Linked DNA regions of Homo sapiens. The protein of the gene in region 1 purifies or fractionates together with the protein of each later gene. This does not show direct contact. Each region holds a gene or a part of one and is shown in the gene's direction. Other genes may lie near its edges.

The links.
Region 2: the proteins of BCL6B (region 1) and SULT4A1 purify together in Homo sapiens (affinity purification with mass spectrometry; 3 studies listed by BioGRID and IntAct, with this or other methods). This does not show direct contact.

The regions. Positions count from the first base shown.
Region 1 is NC_000017.11:7,021,014-7,024,917, forward strand, and holds the start of BCL6B (B-cell CLL/lymphoma 6 member B protein), read left to right. Parts: upstream 1-2,036; 5' UTR 2,037-2,086; intron 2,087-2,646; 5' UTR 2,647-2,658; coding exon 2,659-2,837; intron 2,838-3,069; coding exon 3,070-3,291; intron 3,292-3,387; coding exon 3,388-3,750; intron 3,751-3,904. UniProt on the Homo sapiens protein: Acts as a sequence-specific transcriptional repressor in association with BCL6. May function in a narrow stage or be related to some events in the early B-cell development.
Region 2 is NC_000022.11:43,827,863-43,831,766, reverse strand, and holds part of SULT4A1 (sulfotransferase 4A1), read left to right. Parts: intron 1-2,568; coding exon 2,569-2,707; intron 2,708-3,904. UniProt on the Homo sapiens protein: Atypical sulfotransferase family member with very low affinity for 3'-phospho-5'-adenylyl sulfate (PAPS) and very low catalytic activity towards L-triiodothyronine, thyroxine, estrone, p-nitrophenol, 2-naphthylamine, and 2-beta-naphthol.

The DNA.
Region 1 (3,904 bases):
GAACTTATTCCCCAAATCTAATCTGAGCCTTGAAACTTAGATGGCACCCCAAAATAGACTGCACCCCCAAATCAGCATGAGTACTTTGGTTCTGCTGATAGTCCAAGATGACACAGGTGAGCACAATCTCCAAATTGTGGGTGTCAGAACCCCCAGAACTAATGTAACTTCCAAGTCAGCCCCATACCTGAAACTTACCATATAGGCCTCAAAGGCTGAATGCAGCCACCGGTGCTCACAATCAAATCAACACCCCATAATAAACAGACACCCCACAACTGATCAAATAATACTCCATCCTGATGCCAAAGGGAGAGCCCCTAGTCTAATTCTCATCTCCAAGCTGGGCAGAGACCTAAATAACCCTCACATGTCAAAGCCACCTCATCGTCCTGAATTTCCCAGTTCCCGGTTTCTCAGCTGTTCTTTCATGCATTCAAATAAAGACACACTCCGGTCTGAAGGGGAGGGCCCCGGGCCTGATATCCAGCCCCGTGGACCATGGTCGGCCATTCCTGGCCAACTGTACACTCTCCCCAGCCCAAATCCGGGGAGCTTCTGCCTTGCAGCTGGATTCAGCTCTAGCACCCCTTCTCCAAATGAGCTTTGCCTTGCCTGCCCGCAATGTCTCCCGAAACAAAATATGAGGGTGTGATCCATGCCCATCTCTCAGATCAGGGACTTCAAATTAGGGTGGTTAAGCCCCCTCCTGCCCTCTCTCCCTCCTCCTTGTTTTCCCTTCTCGTTTACCCCACCCAATTTTAATGTTCAATTAAAAGTCACCTCCAAAGACATCTGGGTAGCAGTGTCTAGCTTAATTCGAAAAGAAAACCCGGAGTTCCCAGGCTCAGGTCCCGCTTCTTGTCCCACCCATTCCCCTGGCTCCTAAAGCCCGCGATTTCTCACCTCGGGTAGGAACCCCAGCCTGAGGGGAAAGTCCCCTCGGTCTCCTAACTCTAGCTCCCTCCGCCCAGCCCTAGTCCCCTCCTAGGAGACAGAGGTGCAAAATAAACCCGCGCAAAGGGGAGGAGGCTAAAGGTTTCAGCCGCCCAGACCAAATGGATCCTGCGCCCGGGTCTGAGCGCACCCCAGGCCGGGTGGAGACGAGGGGCGAGGCGAGGCCAGTGCTCGGCCGCCCCCTCGTGGAAGGAGCCGCACATTGCCGAGCCTTGCCTACTTGCCGCGCTGGACCCCGGCGTCCCGCCAGCCTCCAAGCGTAGCCGACGGGCGGGTGCCCGAGGCCCTCGTGAGCTGGGATTGGGGGAAAGCAAGCGGGCTTTGGGCGGGAGTCCATCTCTCTGGATCCCTACAAGGACCCAGAAGAGAGTCGGGAGCGAGAGAGGCCGGACGCCTAGGTCTCCCGAGCGTCTCTCGCCCCTCCACCCCCACCTCGGGGCTTTCCCCACCTCCTCGAGGGGAAGCAGCTGGCGGAGCCGTCCGGTCGCAGGACAATGGAAGGAAACCAACTAGAAATCATATCCGCCCTCTCCGTACCCCGCCCGGCCAGAGCCCCCCTTTTTGTAGGCCCGGGTAGAGTAGCCTGTCATTCACACCACACCCTCCCCGTCTGAGACCCTACGGGAGCCCACTGTCGTCTGCCCAAACCTGCTGTCTCGTTGGGCTCCCCCTTTTCTCCCTTAACACAGTACAAGAGAGGGAGAGGGGGTTGCCGTATGCACTTTGTCCTGCAGCAAAGGTTGGCTCCTGGCAAACCCTCCCAAAAGCCAACACACCAATTTTCACTGGCCCAGGCCTTCCGACGACTCAGACTCCCGTATTGCCAACCTCGATATCCCTAACCTCCTCCCCAATTCCAATATCCCCGTCCTCGTGTCCACTTGCAGTGACCCAAGACCCCCTACGTTACGACCACCCCTTGTTTCTGAGGTCCCGCCCTCGAGACGGAGACCCCGCCCTGGACTCGCCATCTGGAGAGCGAGGGAGGAAGGAAGGATACAGACCCAGGCGTTCACCCCACCTCCACCCCCGCCCCCGACATCCCGGCCAGATAAAGGAGCCGAGGCCAAGAGGGGAGAGAGACCCCGCCCCCCTTAAGAAGAGAAGCCGCGGCCCCTGCAGGACGGGGGTAAGAACAAGAGACTGAGGGAGCCAGACTCCTGGGTCCCCCAAGAGGGTAGGAGCTTGTGTGGAGCTTGCCATCAGCGAGCCTGAGTCCCAGAAATTGGGCTAAACTAGGGATTGGGGACTAGATAGGAGTCGCAGAATTCCGTAGTTCGGGGAAGGGAGCCTCGGCTGGGATTTGGAGGTGTGTGGACGGCAGGCCGTGAGATCTCGAGGCAGGGTTGGACACCTGAGACACAGGCGCGCAGAGGGGAGTGGCGGTGCTGGAGGGGCACTGGGGGTCGAACCCAGGGCGATGGGCGCGGGATTCCCCACGCTCGCCAACGACGCCGCGGTGTGGAACCTTCAACTGGCTCCAAGCGCTGTGGGATCTGGAAGAGGCAAGGGAGCGAGGGTGTCGTAGAGGGCAGAATGAACAAGAAGAATTAGGAGGGAGGCTGCGTGTGCCGGGGCTAGGGGCTGGAAGTCCTGGCTCTAGTTGCACCTCGGAAGGAAAAGGCAAACAGAGGAGGGAAGGCGTCTTAGGACTGCCTGGATCCAGAGCACTTTCCACGGCCTCTACAGGCCTGTGTCGCTATGGGTTCCCCCGCCGCCCCGGAGGGAGCGCTGGGCTACGTCCGCGAGTTCACTCGCCACTCCTCCGACGTGCTGGGCAACCTCAACGAGCTGCGCCTGCGCGGGATCCTCACTGACGTCACGCTGCTGGTTGGCGGGCAACCCCTCAGAGCACACAAGGCAGTTCTCATCGCCTGCAGGTTCGAGGGGTGGGGCCTGGGGCGGGGCCAAATGGGAAAGGGGTGGGACCACAGGGCCGTTGAGAGGGAATCCGAAGCCAAGTCTTTCAGAAGCAGGAGGCGGAGCGTCCCAGAATTGGGGGCGGGGTGATAGTGAGGAGGCGGGACTTTTTCAGGGGGCGGGGCTTCCTGAAGCTGCGCATGTCTCCCTTGGTTCCCCAGCCCCCAAAGGACTTATCTGCTCTCTCTCTAGTGGCTTCTTCTATTCAATTTTCCGGGGCCGTGCGGGAGTCGGGGTGGACGTGCTCTCTCTGCCCGGGGGTCCCGAAGCGAGAGGCTTCGCCCCTCTATTGGACTTCATGTACACTTCGCGCCTGCGCCTCTCTCCAGCCACTGCACCAGCAGTCCTAGCGGCCGCCACCTATTTGCAGATGGAGCACGTGGTCCAGGCATGCCACCGCTTCATCCAGGCCAGGTGAGGGACCCTGGCTCGGCGTTCTCTGTGGGTGAGGTGTTAAGGGCAAAGGCAGAGTTTAGGAAATGGCACTAACGTTCATCACACTTTCCCCAGCTATGAACCTCTGGGCATCTCCCTGCGCCCCCTGGAAGCAGAACCCCCAACACCCCCAACGGCCCCTCCACCAGGTAGTCCCAGGCGCTCCGAAGGACACCCAGACCCACCTACTGAATCTCGAAGCTGCAGTCAAGGCCCCCCCAGTCCAGCCAGCCCTGACCCCAAGGCCTGCAACTGGAAAAAGTACAAGTACATCGTGCTAAACTCTCAGGCCTCCCAAGCAGGGAGCCTGGTCGGGGAGAGAAGTTCTGGTCAACCTTGCCCCCAAGCCAGGCTCCCCAGTGGAGACGAGGCCTCCAGCAGCAGCAGCAGCAGCAGCAGCAGCAGTGAAGAAGGACCCATTCCTGGTCCCCAGAGCAGGTACAGAGTCTAGAACCTCAAGAATTTGTCAGAGCTGGCCTCAGCTAGAAGACAGAGTCATTGGGCCTTGATGGTCAGGAGGAAGGGAGATAGGTGGTGGGTTTCAGAGACACTAGCTCACCTTAAGGAGCTGGCCAGAGACCAGGTTTATTCA
Region 2 (3,904 bases), on another chromosome or scaffold:
TCATCTCCCTCACCGGAGCTTGGCGTTGCCTCTTTGGAACCTGTCAGGTGTGGAACTCGCATGGGTTTTGCTGTCTGGCTTCTGCGCAGATGGCGAGGCTCCTCCACCTGCGTGGCGCGGAGCTCTGTTCTTTCCTGTGCTGTGGTCGGTGCTCCGTTGCAGCACGAATGTGCCACCGCTTCATCCATCCAGTGTTGCCGGGCGTGGAGGCCATTTTCACTTTGGGGTGGTCATGAATAAAGCCTCCGTGGACGTTCTGGAGTCTTGGTGGACGTCAGCACTTGTGCTTATCGGGCCCATACCCAGGAGTGGAATTTCTGGGGTCCTGGGTGTGCATTTGTCAGCTGGTCACTATTTTGCCACCAATGACATAGCATTGAACATGCACTGCCCAGGGCCACTGAGGCCCCAACATGAGAAGGTGAATAGGGAAAGCGCCCAGCTGGCCAGCTGCCCACACATCTCGGGGGCAGCTGCCGGGTCAGCAGTTTCTTCCTGGAGCTTCAGTTTCCTCAGCAATGATGGACTGAAGTTTTAAGGTCCAAACACACACTTTACTCCAAGCCCTTAAAGGGAAGTTCATCCTTCTCTGCCTTCCAGGCTCCCCAGTGAAAGTGGTCAGACCTGTTGCTTTCAGTCCGTCAGGGTCAAGGCCACCAGCCCTGCCTGGAACTTTAAGAGCTGCCGGGGTCAGTGCTGGGACTTCATTTTCTATCAAAGCCGGTCTGTGACTCAATGGCATCCCTGGGACAGTCAGCGTTTCGCCTTCTAATTGGCATGGGTTTATTCTTTTTTTAGGAACCTCAGTAATGGCTTGTTTTAATGGAGGTCAAGTCACATTTTTAGGAATTAATATTGTTTACATCTTACTCCAGAAAACTAGCCCCGAGTGAGCATGGTTGTCTCCAGGACTGTGGTGTGGGTCCATGTGTTCTCACCCTGGGGTTGAGAGGGAATGCTTCCTGCCAGAGCGCTCACTGCCTGCGCTCCACTGCACCGCAATTACAGTGGCCCTTTCCCACGAGCCGGGCACTGTGCCAGGCACCCCGGGTATATTCCCACTTCATCCTCAGTCATCTTGCAGGGTGTTCTCACCAGTCACGGGGTGCCCTGACTGCAACCGTGTGGCCAGCTAGTACCTGCCCATGTGGAGGCACGACCCCAACACGCTGGCTCCGTGCCGTGGTGTGCGGCCTCTTGCTGCGGCCCTGTCGCTAGTTCCAGATGGGGAATGTGTGGCTCAGAGAGGTGAAGTGGGCCGTTCCTGCCAGCTGACCTGGGCGTTCTGCCTGATCCCTGCTGGGTTTCATAACCAGCAAGTGTCCTGTGACATGTTGCTGGATGTAGCCTGGCAGAAACGCCCCTTCCTCTGAGATGGACGTCACGCCGCAGTGAGCTGCCCCACGAGGATTCTGCTGAACGCTCCAGCAGGCTGACTTTAAGCCAGCTGTGTCCTTCTTGCGGCATCTCTTCTGAGAGCCAGGTTTCTTCACTCTTTCTCCATTGCTACCCTTTTTCTTTGAAATGGAGTTCTTGGTGGCAGGGCAAGGGAAAGGGAGCTCTGTATTCCTTGGCTCATTCTCTAATAACTGTTCCTCTGACTCTTGAGTCAAGCCCTGCGCCCGGGATGCACCACACCCCTGCCTGTGGAAGGCAGTGCGAGGCCAGAATCAGACCTGCAACCGCTGCTGCAGGAGTCAGCGCACTGTGGGGACCCAGGGAGGAGCTGGCGCCCACACCAGCTGACTCCCACACCAGCGGTCAGAGAACATTGTCTTTTAAGGTTTCCGAAGTGCTGCAATAAAGAAATTAAATCATCTTTTCACTGTAGGACTTTTTAGAGGCTTTAATGCGGGAATTTGCTTTACAAACCTTCCAGAGAGGAAACAGCCTCCAGCATCTTCCTAATGGGACCAAGGCACCTCTAGGTGACAGCTCAGGGCTGTGATTGAGAAGACGAGGAGCCTCATCTCTTGGGGAGAAAGTGGCAGGGGTGGGGGGCTGGGGAATGGCCCCCTCAAGACGGTTAGCCACATCAGTGACATTCCGCTGTCAGGCGTGGTAAAATAATGGGGCAGGGTATGGCAGGCATGACGGAATCTTGCCTGTGATGAAGCGGGCTCCCTGCCCAGTGCAGGGCCATCTGGAGACCAGAGGGGCCTCCCTGCGCTCCCAAGGGCCAGCCCAGACGCCAGCTGACAGGCAGCAGGAAGGGAAAGAGGAGCCCATTAGGTCTTGCTCCTCACAAGAACCATGTTCTGAAATATGTTTTTTACTTCTTGCTCCTGTTAAAACTTAACCACACCTCTATTAAGACCTCATGTCTGCAACCCAATTCCCTGGAGGACCAGGGTTTGAATTCAAGATCTCCACGTGAGAGCTGAGCACACTTGGGCGATTTCTTAACCTCTTAGTGTTATTTCTGGACAAGGCTGATGTCAGCCTTGTGAGCATTAAGTAAGGAAGGCCGTGTGTAAAAAGTCCTCAGCGTGTGCCCAGCCTGGGGTCGTGTCCAGTAAAAGGCCCCGCCTCTGATGGGCTGCTCTGCTCTCTGCACTTGTCTTCCAGGACCTGGTGACGATGGTGGAGCAGCTGGCCAGATTCCTGGGGGTGTCCTGTGACAAGGCCCAGCTGGAAGCCCTGACGGAGCACTGCCACCAGCTGGTGGACCAGTGCTGCAACGCTGAGGCCCTGCCCGTGGGCCGGGGTACGTGCCCCACCCTGCCTCCCGCCCAGGCACTCCCCACCCCAGCCAGGCTGCTTTCTCTGCCTGCTTAGGGAGCCGAGTCCGGTCCCTGTTGCCCTCCCTGCTCTCCTTTTACAGCAGTCTGTAGCTGGCCCATGGCCTGTGCTCTGTTAGCTGGTGCCCATGGATGGCACAGTGCTCATGGAGTGACGGAGTACCCTGCCCGCTGGTGTTTGCATTGCCTCCAAGCAAACAGTGTTTTGACTTGAAAAAGTGCATTTCAGGCTTTGTGGGCGGGATGTTTCTCAGCAGGGAGTCTACTCAGATGGCCTGAAATCAAACGCCCCACAGAGCAGATCCAGGGACTGGGTTTGGTGCTATGACATGTCAAAGCGCAAAGCATGCTGATGGGTTTCTCAGTCTCTAACTGACTTGTGGGAGAGTTAAATGAAGTGGGCGGGAAGTTAGGAGACACCGTTTTTCTTCCTTCACTGAGTGGACGCTGACTGAGCATCTTCTGGGTGCAGGCAGCACAGGTGAGGCCTAGCCCCACTTCGGGGTGGTGAACTTAAGCAGACAGTACCAAGCTAAGCCGCTGCACAGAGGGAGGCCAGTTCCTGCTCTTGGCGGCAAGTGACAGTGGGCATGAGGCAGCTGGAGATGGGGACAGTGTTCCTGACAGGAATCCTCCCCAGATCCACCTGGGTTGCTCCCCCTGTCCTTAAGGGTGTGTGGCATTTGGCTTTGATGATGGAGAGCCCAGGCTCTAAAACCCCTGAATCCCAGGGTGCTGGCCTTGGCCATAGGAGGCCCCCTGTTGGTAAGTATGAACCTGATGGACACTTGGTGTGTTGGGCACTTCCTGGGTTGAGAATGTTTGCAGGGAGGGCCCAGAAACGTGGATGGCTCTGTTCAGCAGCAGCCCCACAAGATGGAGTGGGAGATGCCTGGGGCGGATGAGAGACGCGCTGGGCTCCAGCTCAGCTCTGCTGCCCTCTGGGAACGCAACATAGGTCAGGCCTTCAGCTTCTGCGGCTTTTTGTTCTTCTCTGAAAAGGGGCTGATCACGGCTAAGGGCGGTTTGAAGGTCAAGTGCAAAGTGCCGTCTCTTATAAAGGCAGAGCAGTGGACTCCTCAGGAGGAAGTGAACTGAACCACAGTCCCTCTCGACTTCTTTCCTGGCTGCATTTTCATAAATATTTGTTATTTAACATTTAT